Homo sapiens: one gene and its partners. The protein of the gene in region 2 interacts with the protein of the main gene of each other region in a pairwise test. Each region holds a gene or a part of one and is shown on either strand. Other genes may lie near its edges. The genes, in order: TRIM5, YES1, CCDC33, SKAP2 and SH3GLB2.

Region 1 (3,519 bases), on a different chromosome or scaffold from region 2:
AAGCTGCCTTTTCCTATTTCTTTTCCTTCATGACATTTTAAAACAATGACCTTGAATGGGTATATTGAGGTTCATCCTGCATCAAAATGGGTTACCTGGATGTAGCTTACCTTTCACACAGCTATGCAGGACACTCATGCCTGCCTGTATTACTTCTCAGCCCAAGCTCAAACTCCCTGCCAAAAGTTGAACACTGAGGACAGAATCATGAGCCATTGCCAAATGTCTTCCCCAAGTAGAGTCACGGACTCAAAAAGTAGCACAAAAATAGAATGCAGGATTCACTAGCCATCCTCACCAGAGAGATCCTTCATGTAAAGAGCTCCCTACTGTGTTCACTGTGACATATTCACTCCTCAGCCACCACACCCCATCAGGGAAAGGATGAAGAGGACTAATCAAATGACTTCTGGACTTATCAAATGTCAGGGAATAAAGAGGAAGAAAGCTCCTTCCCCTGGTCCTGCCCAGATTTCTAGCTAACTCCTTCGGGAACCACATCCTCTTGCCTTCCAGGAAGCTTTCTCTTCTCTGATGTCAGCTTCTAACTCTTCAGCTTCCTGCTGCTTCTGCCTCAGCATCTCCAGAGCTGCCTGGAGCTTCACCTGTGAGAAAGGAATCACACCATAGTCAAGCTATGAGGTTTTCCAGCACCTAGATAGAGTATAAACATGAAATAAATCAGGTTGATCTCAGAAGAAACAAATTTGCAGAAACTGTGAGAATGGCAATGAGAATCCATGACTTGGAAGAAAACTTACATTGGTGAATGTGCTCCCTACATCTCAGGTAATAGACCTCCCCATCTCCTCACCATGAGTAGACTGATTCTTTTTGTCCTAGAAGAAAAAACTAATCCTGCAGCAAGGAAAAAACTTACATCTCAACCCACTCCTGTTACTCTCCTGCTGAAAGGGGTAATCAGAGCTTTTCTTGGACACCAAATCTCTACCCATCTAACCCAAGGTACAAAATATTTACTCCCGGCCAGGAATATATACTCTAGGATTATTCTCCTGTAATTGGGTGAAATGCAAAAAACCATCCTTAAAGCCTCAGAAGTTAAGCATAGCATGAAAAAAATAATCCCGGGTCTCAGGTCTATCATGACAAGGCAGTTAATGTCAAAGGCAAAGTGAAAATTTTCCATCTGGTCCCATTTTCTGCCCTCTCTTCCTTCCATCCCAGTCTCTTACTTGGTACTCCCGGGCAACCTCCTCTGTGAGGAACGTGTGGTGACCACGGTGCTCCTGAGACCGCTCACAAAGCCAGCAAATGACCTTCCCGTCCTCCTGACAGAAGAGTAGAAGTTTCTCTCCATGGCGTGCACAATGATCAACTTTCTGCCCCTCTGGGCTCAACTTGACCTCCCTGAGCTTCTCCACTATGTTGGCTACATGCCGATTAGGCCGTATGTTCTCAGGCTGGTAACTGATCCGGCACACAGGGCAGCTACTCTCTCCTTTGTCTAGCATGGACTTCTTGTGGTTTGCAGTGAGGCATGCTTGGCAGAAGCTGTGGCCGCAGTCCAGGCTCAGGGGTTGTGTCAGGAGTTCCAGGCAGATGGGGCAGGTCACCTCCTCCTTTACATTAACCAGGATTCCAGAAGCCATAGTAGCTATTCCACTGCTCCTGCCTGTCCTGGCTGCTGAGGTTCCTCTTGTTCACAGATCCCTGCATGATTGGGAAGGTTAAAATGGGACCAAGTAAGAAAGGTAGAAATAGAAAGGATATTGATTGTGCACAATTAGAAAATGGGCAAGATGAAAATAATTAAGGACAAAAAAAGGGGAGAAATAAGAAAAGGTGTTTGGTTACCTGGTAATAAGGGCTTTTCATAATCACCTTAAATACTTTACTGCCAGTTCATGTCATATGACAAATTCTGTTCTTATCTGTGCATTGGTTATCATTTTTCTTTACTTTCAATGAATAGAAAACAGACTGAGGTCTTTTCTACCAAGATCTTTGTGTGACCCATCATCTCTCCTGGCTTTTCTTTCCCACGCCAAAACACATCCTCAGTATTAAAATCACCAAACAGCTTATGCCTCAGGGCTTTCACATTTGCTCTTCTCTCAGCATGAAATGTTTCTCTGATGTTAGTACGATTTTATTAAATTCTCTCCTTACATGTTATATTATCAAAAATACCTGCTCTGACTACCTTATGTGCAGTGTAACAAATCTCACCATGCACTGTACGTTTGCAATGATTGCTCTTATTATCAGCAGAGTGAATGACTGTTTCATCAAATGTATAAATAGACATAATAAGTGATTTACAAAAATTATTTATCTTCAGTATGGTGACCTGAGATGACCTCGTATTCAGGGTCCTCTTTCACTGGCCTCTTTGCTACTCTTTTGGTTAATCAATGACAAATGGAGATAACAGCATATATCCAATTAATACCCAGAGCAATTGGGGTGTGGAAGTAGAGGAATCCACAACAGCTGGGAGGTTCTGAGGAGTCTCATCCTGAAAGTTTGCCAAGGACATTTATTGGAGCCTAAAGGTGTAGACATGGTGTAGAGGGTGATGATAGAGAAATACTCAGTGGACCACACATGTTGGATACTTGAAAACTAGAAGCACAGAGGCAGTGGATATCAGTCTTGAGAGAGAAGTCTCAAAATATTAGATGAGATGATTCTGTTCCCGGAACAAACGGAGGGTCGGCTGCTGCTTCTTGCGGCCCAATAACGAGATGCAGATTTACTGGGAAAGAAGCGAATTTTTATTTCTGCGTACAGGGAGAAGGCCTAGAAAATATCTCCAGACCAACTCAAAATTACAAAGTTTTCCAGAGCTTATATACCTTCTAAGCTATACGTCTACGTATAGGTGTGCATTATTCATCTAAAAACATAAGTGATTAACTTCTTCAAATCTATAACTAAGGTCTGAGTTTTAAGACCTTCCTCTGGTGCCTCAGTAAATTTACCTAATCTAGATGGGTCCGGGTGCTGGGGTGATTACCCTTATCTTGTCTCTCCTGCTAAATCATTAAGGTTTGCGGAGTTCCTTCAGACCCTCAATAAACTTGTTTGTGGAGGCCTGGGAGTTCCTTCAGACCCCCATAAAACTTGTTTAATCCTAAACAGGTCCTAATCGATTCCTTCGTTATCTTGTCATGCTTCAAGGCCCAGGAAAGGCCTGGGCAAAACTCTCAGTGGGCTTCTGTTACATTCCAGCCTTTGTATAAGGGCACTGGCTCTATCAGCTTTTAATATTTTTTTTTCTTTTTTGAGACGGAGTCTTGCTCTGTCGCCCAGGCTGGAGTGCAATGGCACAATCTCGGCTCACCACAACCTCTGCCTCCCAGGTTCCAGTGACTCCTCTGCCCCAGCCTCCCGAGCAGCTGGGACCACAGGCACGCACCACCACACCCGGCTAATTTTTGTATTTTTGGTACAGATGGGGTTTCACCATATTGGCCAGTCTGGTCTCCAACTCCTGACCTTGTGATCCACCTGCCTCGGCCTCCTAAAGTGCTGGGATTACAGGCGTGAGCC
Region 2 (3,519 bases):
GGCAAACACAGCAAGACCATCTCTCTTAAAAAAGAAAGAAAATAAAATAATTAGAAAGTATTGCCAGGCGTGGTGGCTCATGCCTGTAATCCCAGCACTCTGGGAGGCCAAGGCAGGTGGATCACCTGAGGTCGGGAGTTCCAGACCAGCCTGACTAAAAATACAAAAAATTAGCCAGGCAAGGTGGTGCACGCTTGTAATCCCAGCTACTCAGGAGGCTGAGGCAGAAGAATCGCTTGAACCTGGGAGGCAGAGGTTGCAGTGAGCGGAGACCACACTATTGCACCCCAGCCTGGGCAACAAGAGTGAAACTCCATCTCAAAAAAAAAAAAAAAAAGTATTAATTGAACATTCTCTGCCAGCAATTCAAATGTACTATTTAATGAAGAAGAAAAAAGACAAGAAATCTCCCTTTCCATCATTGCTCCTCATTCCTAAGAAAGTTATGGCATATGGAACAGGCTTGTAGTCAGCCCTAGGTTTAAATCCCAGTTCTGCCGGTTGTGTGACCTTAGCAAATTATATATACTTTCTGATTCTCAGTTTCTTTATCTGTAATAAATACCTACCTCAAGGGGCCCAGCACAGTGGCTCACACCTATAATCCTAGCACTTCGGGAGGTTGAGGCAAGTGGATCGCTTGAGCCCAGGAGTTCGAGACAGCCTGGGCAACAAGGTGAAACCCTGTCTCTATTCTAAAAAAAAATAAAAATAAAAAACAGGCTGGGCATGGTGGCTCACACCTGTTTTCCCAGCACTTTGGGAGGCCGAGGCGGGAGGATCCCTTGAGCCTAGGGGGTTTAAGATCAGTCTGAGCAACATGGTGAGAAATTTTGAATTTTAAAAATTAAAAAAAAAATTAGCTGGGCATGGTGGCTCACAACTGTGGTCCCAGCAGCTACTCAGAGACCAAGGTGGGAGGATCACTTGAACCTGGGAGGCAGAAGTTGCAGTGAGCCAAGGTTTTGCCACTTCATTCCAGCCTGGGTGTCAGAGTGAGACTCCGTCTCAAAAACAAAAAATAAATACCCATCTCATTCCTAATTTTTCTGTGTATTTTGGAAACACATTTCAAAGATTCAAGTCAAATGTGATAATGCATATAAAAGTATGGCATAGCACCTATCATAGGACAGGCTTTCTTCTTTCCCTACCCAATGCCAAAGTGAGGTGAATGGGTGGGAAATAAAAAAAGCACAGAGAAGGTAAAGAAGTTACAAACTCCATATTGTAACACTCCTCATTTTCCCAAACCCTTTTCTACTATTTTTGTTTATTACCCCCAATCTTTTGAAGCTTTTCTATACCTCATACTGTCCTATAGGGTTAGAGTATGAGGCAGGTTTCACTGCCACTAGCAAGCAGGTGGGGAAACCTAGGGAAGTTTCTGTACTTAAATTAAGCTTAATAGCAATGCCTTATTGGGAGAATCTGAGTCTCCTAACAGGGAACTCAAAACAGTGATTTTTAAATAGTGAGGAGCTGGTAAGGTGGGAAAGGAGGGTGACTGGCAAGGCTACAGGTTCACCCACCTCATAATCAGAGCACTTGTAGGCCAAATATTTTATTTGTTCAAAGAGCTCAGCAGTTAACAAAAACCAGGCAAAAACTGATAATCAGTCAGAAAATATTTTACCACCAAAGTATTATTTTACCTATTTGTGAGGCTTTTATAAGACTCCAACGGGCTGCCTAGAAATCAGGCCAAAAGGCTTATGTTACAGAAAAGACTTCCTGGAAAAACAGATTCTAATTTTCAAAACATCAACTTACAAACTTTCAGAACACTGTAATTTTAGTTTCTTTGTTTTAGAAAATCTATTTTACAAACCTTAAAAGGCTAACCATTTTCCAATGCCATGCTTGTCTTGTTCTAAATATTAACTGTATGTGTATAAAGACAAATATCCAGAACAAGTTGTCCATACCTTTGTCAATTAAAAAAATTAAATGTAAATTTTGATGATAGTGGCTATTTTTCTCATATAATGTTGCAAAGTTTTTATTCAAATAGCCACGATTACTTGTTAACTGACATCATAACTATCCACTTCAACAGAATAATTAAGTCATTTTTCTAATTTTATTACGAAAAAATCTGGGCTAGGCACAGTGGCTCACGCCTGTAATCCCAATACTTTGGGAGGCCAAGGCAGGCAGATCACCTGAGGTCAGGAGTTCGAGACCAGCCTGGCCAACATGGTGAAACCCCCATCTCTACTAAAAATAAGAAAATTAGCTGGGTGTGGTGGCACACACCTGTAATCCCAGCTACTGAGGAGGCTGAGGCAGGGAGAATTGCTTGAACCCGGGAGGCAGAGGTTGCAGTGAGCCGAGATTGCACCACTGCACTCCAGCCTGGGCAATAGAGTGAGACTGAGTCTCAAAAAAAAAAAAAAAAAAAAAGGCCAGCTGAGGTGGCTCACACCTGTAAGCCTGGCACTTTGGGAGGCCAAGGCGGGCGGATCACCTGAGATAGGGAGTTGGAGACCAGCCTGACCAACATGGAGAAATCCCATTCTCTACTAAAAACACAAAAATTAGCCGGGTGTGGTGGCACACGCCTGTAATCCCAGCTACTTGGGAGGCTGAGGCAGGAGAATCACTTGAACCCAGGAGGCTGAGGTTGTAGTGAGCTGAGATCAAGCCACTGCACTCCAGCCTGGGCGACAGAGTGAGACTCTGACTCAAAAAAAAAAAACACAAACCAAAAACCTAGCATAGTAGTATAAATGTTTGCTTAATTAGTAGAACTGCAATTTGCTTGAGAAAGTTCCGTGTCAAGTCCATGGGTCAGTTTTTTATAATCTTTACTTATATCTAATGTGATTCCAAATTTTAGACTCAAACATTTCCTTAAAATTTTATCAATACGGTCATGCATCACTTAACATATATTCTGAGAAATGCCTCATTAGGCAATTCTGACATTATGTGAACACTCTAGAGTGTACTTACACAAACCTACGTGGTATAGCTGACTACAACCTTGGGCCATATAGTATGGCCTATTTCTCTCAGGCTACAAACCTGTACAGCACACAACTGTACAGAATACTGCAGGCAACTGTAACAGTATTTGTGTATTTAAACATAACTAAATGTAGAAGAGATACAGTAATTACACAGTATAAAAAAATAAAAAATGGTACACCTATATAGGGCAGCTCTACTATAATCTTACAGGATCACCATCATTGAAACTTCCTTAGGCAGAGCATGACTATATTGTAACAACTTCAACTGCGGCAGAGCACACATTTATATATAAAGCTGAGAAACTATTAGAAACCATGAGGCCCAACTACCTTTTGTTTCAAATTGCAAAACTAACGCCTAGGGAGTTTACTGAATCGACCAAGGCTAAACAGCTCTTCACTGTCAGAAATGAAACTAAAATCTAGATAGTGTTAGTGCTCTACCTTCCAGTCCTTTCCTTATAACACCATATTGCCTTCTCTGCTCCTTCCAAATGTCTGGCTGCTATTATTTTTAAAGTATCCTTATCTGTAAAATATT
Region 3 (3,519 bases), on a different chromosome or scaffold from region 2:
ATGGAGCCTATGAAGCCAGAGGTGGTGAGTGGCTGCCGGCCCAATAAGGAACAGCCCTTTCCCTGAGTAGTTTCCCAGGGCAAGTCACTTAGGAAAGATCACTTCAGACCTAGGACTGGGGAGGGAGGGTCAGCCTGTCTTGTGCATGTGCAGGCAGGAGTGGTGGGAACTCAAAGTTAGAAGACCTGCAGTCTGACGCCAGAGCCCTGGTGAGGGTACTGTGGCTGATGTGTGTGCAGGATGGGGGCGGGGAGAGGCAGGCATCGCCTGCAGATGCTAATGGAAGGGCCACAGCGGTAGTGGAATTATGGAATGTCATTAACCCTCAGCTGTGATCTTCAGAAAAGCCATTAACCCCCAGCCATGGAGGCAGACCTGCTTCCCCTGGGGACAGAGCCTTCATTCCATGGCCCCTCCACGCCCACCGCCTTATTTCCCCTGGGCCCACCCACATCCACCTCTGCCTGCTCTGCCCAGGCATAGTGGCCGCCATCTGGAGGAGTAGCTGCTGGGAGCAGATGCTGGGCTGGGGTCTCTAGGGATCTAGGACCCCTTGGCTCTGGGTCTGGGTCTGCCTCAACCTTGCTGTGTGGCCTTCAAGTCCCTTCTCCTCTTTGGGACCTACTTTTCCCATCATCCCATGGGGATATGCCTCAAACTCCTCACTTTGAAAGCCTGTTGTAAGGTTAAAGGAGACAATGGATGTTTTGCTATTAAGATGTAAGTTCAACTTCACTGAACTCAGCAAATGTTGACTCTGGGGGGCTTCTCCATTCCAGATGCCTGTGGGGTGCTGTAGAGCCAGACTCTGCCCCCGACCCTGTAGCCCACCATCATCCAGGAGGATAGGGGACAGACAGACAGACAGACAGACAGACACACACACACAAACATGTAGAGTCCTAAGCAAGCTGTGGTTGTGGGAGCTGGGGTGTGCGAGGAGAAAGCCATGACTTCTGACCCCATTCCTCAGGGAGGACCTGAAGGACAAGGGCAGTAGGTAAGGAAGAGGAAGGCCATTCCAGACTGCGAGTGCAGCAGAGGTGGAGGCTGGAGGTGGGAAGGGGCAGTGTGGGTGTGGAGAACAGCAAGCTGTCCAGTGGGGCTGCAGAATGCCTGTATGAGCTGGAGCCATAAGCCAGGAGGCTGGAGGGCACAGGGCCTGTGGACCTGGCTGAGAGTGGGATTTGCCTTGTCGTGATAGTAACAGGGGGCCCAGGGGAAGGGCTAGGCAGGGGATGCCCTGGCTGCTCCTCAGAGAATGGATGGCAGGGGCCTGAGGGGAGGCTAGCACTAGGGCAGGGTCTGTGGGGATGGAAGGGGCCCCAGGAGAGCTTGGGGACAGGCCAGCTGTGGGGCTGAGAGAGGAGGGGATGGTGGTGGGCACACATGGCTTCCCGGAGCTCCACTCCAGCTCTGTAGGAGACCAGAACAACAGGAGCAGCCTGTTGGGCAATGGGCCCCTTCCAAGGTGCCGGGGTAGGAGTAACTTACACGGCCCACCCTATGTTGGTTCCAGCAGGCTGGACCAGGTGAAGTCCGACAGGCCATCTACCCCTTAACTCACCAGTTCAGCCTTTGCCATCATCACCAGGCTCCACTGAGGGCCACCTAGCCCACCACCATGCCCCTCCTTGCCTCATCACCAGCAGATGGCCCTTGGGTTCGGGTGGCTCCGCCTCCATAACCTTCCACATTTATACCAGCAAGGCAGAGCCACACCCCTCCTTAGTGATTGGCTCAGGGAAGTGCATGTAACCCAATCCTGGCTAATCAGACAGGAAGGAGGTCTGCTGAGGGATGGCTGGGTAAGGTTGGTTTCCAGTTGCTCTTTAAAACCACCTACAAGAAGAGAGGGTGCTGCTGGGTGCGGTGCCTCAGGCCTGTAATTCCAGCACTTTGGGAGGCCAAGGTGGGCGTATCGCCAGAGGTCGGGAGTTCAAGATCAGCCTGGTTAACATGGTTGAACCCTATCTCTACTAAATATACAAAATTAGCTGGGCATGGTGGCGCTCGCCTGTAATCCCAGATACTCGGGAGGCTGAGGCAGGAGAATTGCTTGAACCCAGGAGGCAGAGGTTGCAGTGTGAGCCAGGATTGCGCCACTGCACTCCAGCCTGGGGGACAGAGACTTGGTCGCAAAAAAAAAAAGAGAGGCTGCCTCTTATCTGCTGGTCTTTCATTCTATTTGGATGAAGTGCCCCCATGAGCCGTTAGCCAGCTGAAGATGGTAATTCGGGGTGTTGGAAAGATCCTGAGACCTCGAGGATGCTTCTGAGCCTGAGCATCCACCAATTCTGGCAGCATTCTATGTCGTGAGTTGATGTGGTGTGTGACAATAAATATCCTTAGTATTTAAGCCGATCCAAGTTGGGGTTTCTGTTACTTGGAGCCAGATGTGAAAAGGGCAGTGGTGAGGCTGGCCTCAGAGGGGACACTGGCACTAGGGGAGGTACAGCTCTGTTAAGAGTGGAACCCATTTACCTTGGACCCTGGGCCTGGACACTTTGCAAAGATTATCCTTTGAGTTCTCCTAACAGATTGGAATCAATGAGTCTGGAGAAAGGAGCAGCTTACCAAAGGTCATGCAGCCAGTAAGTTACAGAGCTGGGGTCAAACCCAGGTCAAACAGTGCTTTTGCACAGTGACAGTTGGTGAGAAATCACAGCCCCCCAAGATGTCAGAGAGGGCAGGCCCTAAAATTACCAAGTCCAATCCCACCCCCTCAAGTGTAGAGATGAGGGGACTGACGCTCAAAGGGAACAGGGCAGGGGTCTGTGTGAAGACTGAGCTCACGCTGCTGACTGGTGCCCCTCCAGGTATGGCTCTGCCCGGGCAATCCCCACCCCTCCTTACCACAGCAGCCTGCTCCTGTTCTCTCACTGCTGCACCTGGGCACCTCTGTGCCAGCTGCCAGCAAATTCCCAACCTGGCCCAGCTGCCATGGGGTTGGGTGATGTTCAACAGGTGTCCTGCCATTGCTGGACCGGGTCCCACACATGCAAAAGGCACTGGGAACAAGTCTCTGTAGTGAGTGGCACCTCTCCTACCCAGACTAGTTAGGCAGCAAAGGCAGCCAGAGAAAGCCTGGGGGTGGGAGGGGGCACACTCATTAAAGCAGGCAGTGCCTCTTGCCCCTTGGGACAGCCTGCTGATTGGTTCTTAATTTTCTGGGCAAATGCAGGGCCATGTGTGAGGTAACTCTAGGGAAATCAGGCAAAGGATTGGTTTGGGTTTGAAGCCTCTGTCCCCAGGGTCCCCCTTTGTCCCACTCCTCCCCACCACCATCACTCTACCCCATGTCTGAGCCTTCTTCAAATGTCTTTGCCTTTAAATGAAGCCTGGGCTCCAAAGGGGTGTCTTGTTCTATTTTTGCTATGCCAGACATAAGCACTGGTGGGCAGACAATAGGAGGGACCTCCAAAAATCCCTCTGTCCCCCAAGGCCCCTAGGAATGTTGGGACCATCGTGTAGGGCAAGCTGGCAGTGAAGCGCAGATCATGAGAAGAGACCAATCTG
Region 4 (3,519 bases), on a different chromosome or scaffold from region 2:
CCATACTTATGGGATCAACAGCATGGCTAACAAAGTTTTCTGACAGGGACAGTCAAAAAGGTATCTGACTATACAGTCTTGAGATAATTGATCCATCTGGGTCTCATTTTCTCATCTGTTATAAAAAGAAGGGGAGGAGCTAACCTAGATTATTTCTGTTATCTCTTTCAGTTTTAAAATTCAGCTAAGAAAGCTAAGAAAAGCAAAATGAAATATAAATAGAAAGGCCTAAAGGGACTACAAGAGAGATAAGCAGAATGGTAATGAAAAGACTGTCTGCTTTTCATTTCTCATATTATAAAACCACCTCCATATTTCATTTCCATTAAATATTGGTGTTGAAAGAGTGAGACCATATGGTCAACTCCCAATTATCATAGCCAATGGAGAGGAACACTGAAATGAATAATAGACAATGGCAGACAAAACTCCAGGCTTGATCTGAACCATGGTGCATGCCAGTTTGGGCATAGGAGAACCTGCTGCTCAGCCCATTGAGATACTGGTGAGAAATCCCACCTTTGAGAATACAGTCATGGCCTGCAGCTTTCCTTTGAGAGGCAGGAAACAGCTCCTGAATCATTTACAAATAACCAAGGTTGACAACTAAAAACCTAACCTAATGTTTTCTTATTAAAAATTATTTAAAGCTAAGAGCTATATTTTGTGGTTTGGATAATGTCATCCAGATTTTCTTACAATCTTTAAACTCTTTAATCACCTAAAACGAATACTGCCTCCACATGTATACTACAAACATGTTCTATCTAAGGATGAAATTATTTTTACATTTTTCATTAGAACCTTCAGTTTACCTTTTCTGCGTTTTTCAAGGTAGCCAGCCTTTAGAACAAAAGGAAGGTCTTGTGCTGCAATTGGAGGAAACTGGGCTCCTATGAGAAGTTGGGGAGAGAAAAAAAAAAGCAGTGGGTAATCCATTTCAGAATAAACAAGTGCCAGATCTCATTAGATTCAGTGTGCTTTTAATTACTGAAATTGTTTAAATCTAAGTCTATTAGCTTTGTTTCAGATCCATTCCCTAGATTAATCCCCTCTATTCCTCCTAAAAGTCTCAAAAGTAAAAAAAAAAAAAAAAAAAAAAAAGTTCTGTACTCCTATATGTTATTATAGCCTCCCAAAATACAGGACTGAGAAACTATTATAAATAAATGCAATAAATCCCTGAAAGAGAGGTTAAGAATTTCAAATAAATCATAGCTTCGTTATATTTATATTGAATTAACTCTTTAAAAATTTCAATACATATTGACTCTTTCCTGCATAATCCCTATTCCTACCAAGTAAAACATAAAATGCTTTTCCGAATCAAATGCTGAAACTTGTTTCTCTGAGCCCACAGCAAATATTCTCTGTGTTTGTATTCAGAGAAATGTTATGGACATTCCACTGAGTGAGTATGCTTTAGGTTTTTATAGGGCATTTAAGAGTCTAAAACTAGACAGATCTGATAAAACTATTATAAACAAATACTGGATCCCTAAAAAAAGTTTTTAAATCAAGCAAAAGTTAAGTTGATTAGAAATTGTATATTCACGGTCATGGATTATAGGTTACTCAATTTTACAAGTGTTCAATATTTTTATAAACTTCATTAGAAATATAATAGTTATCTGCCGGGCGCAGTGGCTCACGCTTGTAATCCCAGCACTTTTGGAGGCCGAGGCGGGTGGATCACTTGAGGACAGGAGTTCGAGACCAGCCTGGCCAACACAGTGAAACCTGGTCTCTACTAAAACTACAAAAGAAATTAGCCAGGCATGGTGGCGGGTGCCTGTAATCCCAGCTACTTGGGAGCTGACGCAGGAGAATCACTCGAACCCAGGAGGCAGAGGTTGCAGTGAGCCAAGATCACGCCATTGCAATCCAGCCTGGGAAAAAAAAGAGAAAAAAACGAAAACAGAAAAGAAAAGAAATATAATAGTTATCCTCAGCATTTTACTAGAACTCTAGCAAGTGAAAACAACCAATCAAAAGAAAGTTTGTATGGAATACATCCAGTGGAAATAGTTTCAGTACAACTTAGGATAGAAAATGTGTTTGAGTACAAACATGTAATTAGAATGAATAAGATCTAGTATTTGATAGCACAACAGAGTGACTATAGTCAACAATAATTTATTGTACATTTAAAAATAACTAAGTGGCCGGGTGCAATGGCTCATGCCTACAATCCCAGCACTTTGGGAGGCTAAGGAAGGAGGGTCGCTTGAGCCCAGGAGTTTGACACCAGCTTGGGTAACACAGTGAGACCCCCATCTCTACGAAAAATTTAAAAATAACTGGGTGTAGTGGTATACGCGCCTGCAGTCCCAGCCAGTGGAGGAGGAGGGTAGAGGTGGGGGGAAGGGGGTCTGAGGTGGGAGGATCCCCCAAGAGGTCAAGGCTGCAGTGAGCCATGATTGTGCCACTGCGCTCCAGCCTGGGTAATAGAGTGAGACCCTGTCTCTAAATAAATAAATAAATAAATAAATAAATAAATAAATAAATTAATAAAATGAAATAACTAAACAAATATAATTGGATTCTTTGTAACAGAGAAAGAATAAATGGTTGAGGTGATGGATACCTCATTTATCCTGATGTGATTATCATGCATTGTATGCCTGTATCAAAACATACAATATGCCCATAAATTTGCCTATTGTGTACCCACAAAAATTAAAAATTAAAAAAAAGAATGGGTTTGATAGGAAGTTTATTATTTACAAACTCATCACCTAATTTTACCAGTTTTTTTTTTTAATACCATGGGGATCACAGTAGTGATAAAGTCATGGATATTTTTTCTTAAGAAATAAAGCTTAAAATTAGAGCACTAATTTCAGCTCCTTGGTGGATCAACTTCACCCAGTAAACACCACACAGTATCATTAAAACATATTTAAAATAGAGCCCTGATTTTGAAATGTATATGAAATTTTAGGGAAAGTCAGTGTACATATTTTAATAGCTGTTCAATAAATGTATCCAGTTTTTTTCAAAATAAACTTGGTACATATAAAGGTATAAATTATTTATTATAGGATTTTGTACATAAAACAAAAATTACAAACAGAAATCTTATCTCTGTAAACAAGTCCTGGTGAACCACTAATCTAAAGTGGATAATTGTGGAATGATCTGGTCTCATTAAGGGGTAGTCCCACAACCCTCTCACTTCCATTGGGCATAATAAATGCTCTTTACATAAGGAATGGATGCTCACAAAATCTTAAGAAAAGTTAAATTATTCTGAAAAGAAATGGGTACCTTTAGCATAGCTTTCAACTCTAAAATGTTACTGGTCAAAAAGGAGACAGAGAGAGATGGGAAGAAGGGAGAGGGGAGAGGAAGTGGGGGAAAAGGAAAAGGAGAAGGGAAATTAGAATTTACTAGCGTTCAATATACACATAGCCTGAGTCTTTTGCTTTAAGAAAAGTGTTGACTAAATTTCCACCTGATACATCACAATAAAATTTGATGTCATAAGCAATACTTGTTCTGAATTCTAAATTCATG
Region 5 (3,519 bases), on a different chromosome or scaffold from region 2:
GCCGTGTGGATAAAATCCCTCTCCGCGGCTCCCAGTTGCTTTTCAGCTTCTGCCACCTTGATCAGTGTCTTCCCTGAGAAAACAGAGTTGAAGCGTGAGGAAGAAGGTCAGGCTCAGGCTACTCTGATCTACAGGAGAGGGCTCAGGAAGAGCTTGCTGAAGAGCAAGGGCCGGGGTGCTCAGTGCAGAATGCTTTGCCTGGGAAAAAGCAGAAGCAACCTACACTACACCATCAACTGGGAACTAACAAATAAACAATGGGACAGCCAAAATATGGAACACAATGCAGCCATTATAAAGATCGGGGTTAGACTTCCAGAATGTCAGAGAAAGGAGCTCAACAAATCCCCTCCCAAAAAAAGTAACAATAAAACTGGACACCACGCCAGGTGCGGTGGCTCACACCTATAATCCTAGCACTCTGGGAGGCCGAGACGGGAGGATCACTTGAGCTCGGCAGTTCCAGACCACCCTGGGCAACATAGGGAGACCTTATCTCTTTGAAAATAAAACAAATTGAAAGAAAACTGGACACAATTGTCAAAAACATCCATTTCTGGACTCTGCAAATTGACCAAGGCAAAAAACAAATTGAAAAGCATTTAATCAAGAAAAACTACTGGGCTGGATGCTGTGGCTCACACCTGTAATCTCAGCACTTTGGAAAACCAAGGTGGGCAGACTGCTTGAACCCAGCTGTTCAAGACCAGCCCGGGCAACATGGCAAAACCTTGTCTTTATAAAAAATAAATAGAAAATCATAAGAAAAATGAGCAGCGCCTCAGCACCTACGGGGCACTGTCAAGTGAACCAACATATGACTAACAAGAGTCCCAGAAGAGGAGGAGAAAATAAGGCAGAAAAAATATGTGAAGAAACAATAAGAGGCTGGGCGCGCTGGCTCACACCTGTAATCCCAATACTCTGGGAGGCCCAGGCGGAAGGATCATTTGAACCCAGGAGTTTGAGGCTATAGTAGTAAGCTATGATTGCACCACTGCACTCCAGTCTGGGTGACACAGCAAGATCCTGTCTTTAAAAAAAAGAAAAGAAAAGAAAAAACATGGTTTGATTCATCACATACAAGAGAGCTAAAATAAGATGAATTGTCTTCTCATTAGAAACAATAGAAGCCAGACAGCAGTAAGATAATATATTCAAAGTAAAGAAAAAATTGTTCATCCAGGAATTCTATATATAGCAAAACAATCCTTCAAAAGTGAAGGCAAGGCCGGGCGCAGTGGCTCACGCCTGTAATTCTAGCACTTTGGGAGGCTAAAGTGGGTGGGTCACTTGAGGTCAGGAGTTCGAGACCAACCTGGACAACATGGCAAAACCTCGTCTCTACTAAAAATACAAAAATTAGCTGGGTGTGGTGGTGTGCATCTGTAATTCCAGCTACTTGGGAGACTGAGGCAGGAGAATTGCTTGAACCCAGGAGGCAGAGGTTGCAGTGAGCCAACGTCACACCACTGTACTCCAGCCTGGGCAACAAGAGCAAGACTGTCTTTAAAAAAAAAAAAAAAAAAAAAAAAAAAAAAAGATACGGCCGGGTGCGGTGGCTCACACCTGTAATCCCAGCACTTTGGAAGGCTGAGGCAGGCGGATCATGAGGTCAGGAGTTCAAGACCAGCCTAACCAACTTGGTGAAACCTGTCTCTACTAAAAATACAAAAATTAGCCAGGCGTGGTGGCAAGCACCTGTAATCCCAGCTACTCAGGAGGCTGAGGTAGGATAATCGCTTGAAACCGGGAGGTGGAGGTCGCAGTGAACCAAGATCGCACCACTGCACTCCCGCCTGGGTGACAGAAAAAAAAAAAAATCCAAAGATACACTTTAAATTTAAAGACATGAATGGGCTGAAAAAAGTACACCATGTATGCAGTAACCACGAGAGAGTTAACGTGGCTATACTACTACCAGACAAAATAGACTTTAACACAAAATAGTACTAGAGACAAAGAATAGTATTTTATAATGAAAGAGTCAATTCATCAGGAAGATGCACAAATATAAACATACAGACCTAAGACAGTTCCAAAATACATAAGGCAAACACTGACAAAGAGAGAAATAAGATAATTCAACAGTAATAGTTGGAAACTTGAATACTCTGCTCTTTTTTTTTTTTTTTTTTTTTGGTCTCACTCTGTCTCCCAGGCTGGAGTGCAGTGGCGCGCTCTTGGCTCGCTGCAACCTACGCCTCCCGGGTTCCAGCAATTCTCCTGCCTCAGCCTCCCAAGTAGCTGGGACTATAGGCGCGCACCAGCATGCCCAGCTAATTTTTTTGTATTTTTAGTAGAGACAGGATTTCACCATGTTGGCCAGGCTGGTCTTGAACTCCTGACCTCAGGTGATCCAACCACTTTGACCTCCCAAAGTGGCGGGATTACAGGTGTGAGCCACCATGCCCAGCCTCAATAGTCTACTCTTGATAATGAATAGGACAAGACAAAATCAGCAAGGACATACAAGCCTTGAACACTATTAACCGATGTGGCCTCGCTGACACCTATACAGCACTGCACCCTCAACAGCATAATATCACATCTTCTCAAGTGAACCTAGGACATTCCCCAGATAGACCATATACTAGGTCATGAAACAAGTCTCAATAAATTTAAAAGGATTAAAACAATAAAAATATGAGGCTGGGTGTGCTGGCTCATGCCTGTAATCCCAGCACTTTGGGAGGCTAAGGCAGGCGGATCACTTGAGATCAGGAGTTTGAGACCAGCCTGGCCAACATGGTGAGACCCCCATCTCTATTAAAAATACAAAAAATACGCCGGGTGTGATGGCTCACACCTGTAATCCCAGCACTCTGGGAGGCCAAGGTGGGTGGATCACGAGGTCAGGAGATCGACTATCCTGGCTAACACGGTGAAATCCCGTCTCCACTGAAAAAAAAAAAAATTAGCCTGGCATGGTGGCAGGTGCCTGTAGTCCCAGCTACTTGGGAGGCTGAGGCAGGAGAATGGCATGAACACGAGAGGCGGAGGTTGCAGTGAGCCGAGATCGTGCCACTGCACTCCAGCCTGGGCGACAGAGCGAGATTCCGTCTCAAACAAAAAAAAAAAAAAAAAAAATTAGCTGGGTGTGATTATAGGTGCGTGATGGTGCGTGCCTGTAATCTCAGCTACTCAGAAGGCTGAGAGGCTGAGGTGGAGGATCCCTTGAACCTGGGAAGTGGAGCTTGCAGTGAGCCCAGATGGCACCATTGCACTCCAGCCTGGGCGACAGAGCGAGACTCCATCTCAAAATAATAATAATACTAACATAGCACGACATGTTCATACATTCTCTGATCGCAGTGGAATTAAGTTAAAAGCAACAATAGAAGAAAACCCAGAAAATCCACAAATATCTGAAAATGAAACAACACACTACTGACAGGAATAAAAAAATCATACAGCTACTTTGGAAAACAGTTTGGCAACTTCTTAAAAAGTTAAATTAAATTGGCTGGGCGCAGTGGCTCACGCCTGTAATCCCAGCACTTTGGGAGGCCAAGGCGG

Evidence for each region.
Region 1: the proteins of YES1 (region 2) and TRIM5 interact in binary tests that used the Homo sapiens proteins (3 or more experiments, as listed by UniProt).
Region 3: the proteins of YES1 (region 2) and CCDC33 interact in a two-hybrid assay, tested with the Homo sapiens proteins (one large-scale study listed by BioGRID).
Region 4: the proteins of YES1 (region 2) and SKAP2 interact in a protein complementation assay, tested with the Homo sapiens proteins (one study listed by BioGRID).
Region 5: the proteins of YES1 (region 2) and SH3GLB2 interact in binary tests that used the Homo sapiens proteins (3 or more experiments, as listed by UniProt).

What each region holds. Positions count from the first base shown.
Region 1 is NC_000011.10:5,678,565-5,682,083, forward strand, and holds part of TRIM5 (tripartite motif-containing protein 5), read right to left. Parts: intron 1,675-3,519; 5' UTR 1,614-1,674; coding exon 1,197-1,613; intron 606-1,196; coding exon 510-605; intron 1-509.
Region 2 is NC_000018.10:802,225-805,743, forward strand, and holds part of YES1 (tyrosine-protein kinase Yes), read right to left. Parts: intron 1-3,519. UniProt on the Homo sapiens protein: Non-receptor protein tyrosine kinase that is involved in the regulation of cell growth and survival, apoptosis, cell-cell adhesion, cytoskeleton remodeling, and differentiation.
Region 3 is NC_000015.10:74,274,311-74,277,829, reverse strand, and holds part of CCDC33 (coiled-coil domain-containing protein 33), read right to left. Parts: intron 1-3,519.
Region 4 is NC_000007.14:26,739,072-26,742,590, forward strand, and holds part of SKAP2 (src kinase-associated phosphoprotein 2), read right to left. Parts: intron 3,301-3,519; exon of another isoform or gene 3,271-3,300; intron 894-3,270; coding exon 816-893; intron 1-815. UniProt on the Homo sapiens protein: May be involved in B-cell and macrophage adhesion processes. In B-cells, may act by coupling the B-cell receptor (BCR) to integrin activation. May play a role in src signaling pathway.
Region 5 is NC_000009.12:129,014,832-129,018,350, forward strand, and holds part of SH3GLB2 (endophilin-B2), read right to left. Parts: intron 1,029-3,519; exon of another isoform or gene 909-1,028; intron 74-908; coding exon 1-73.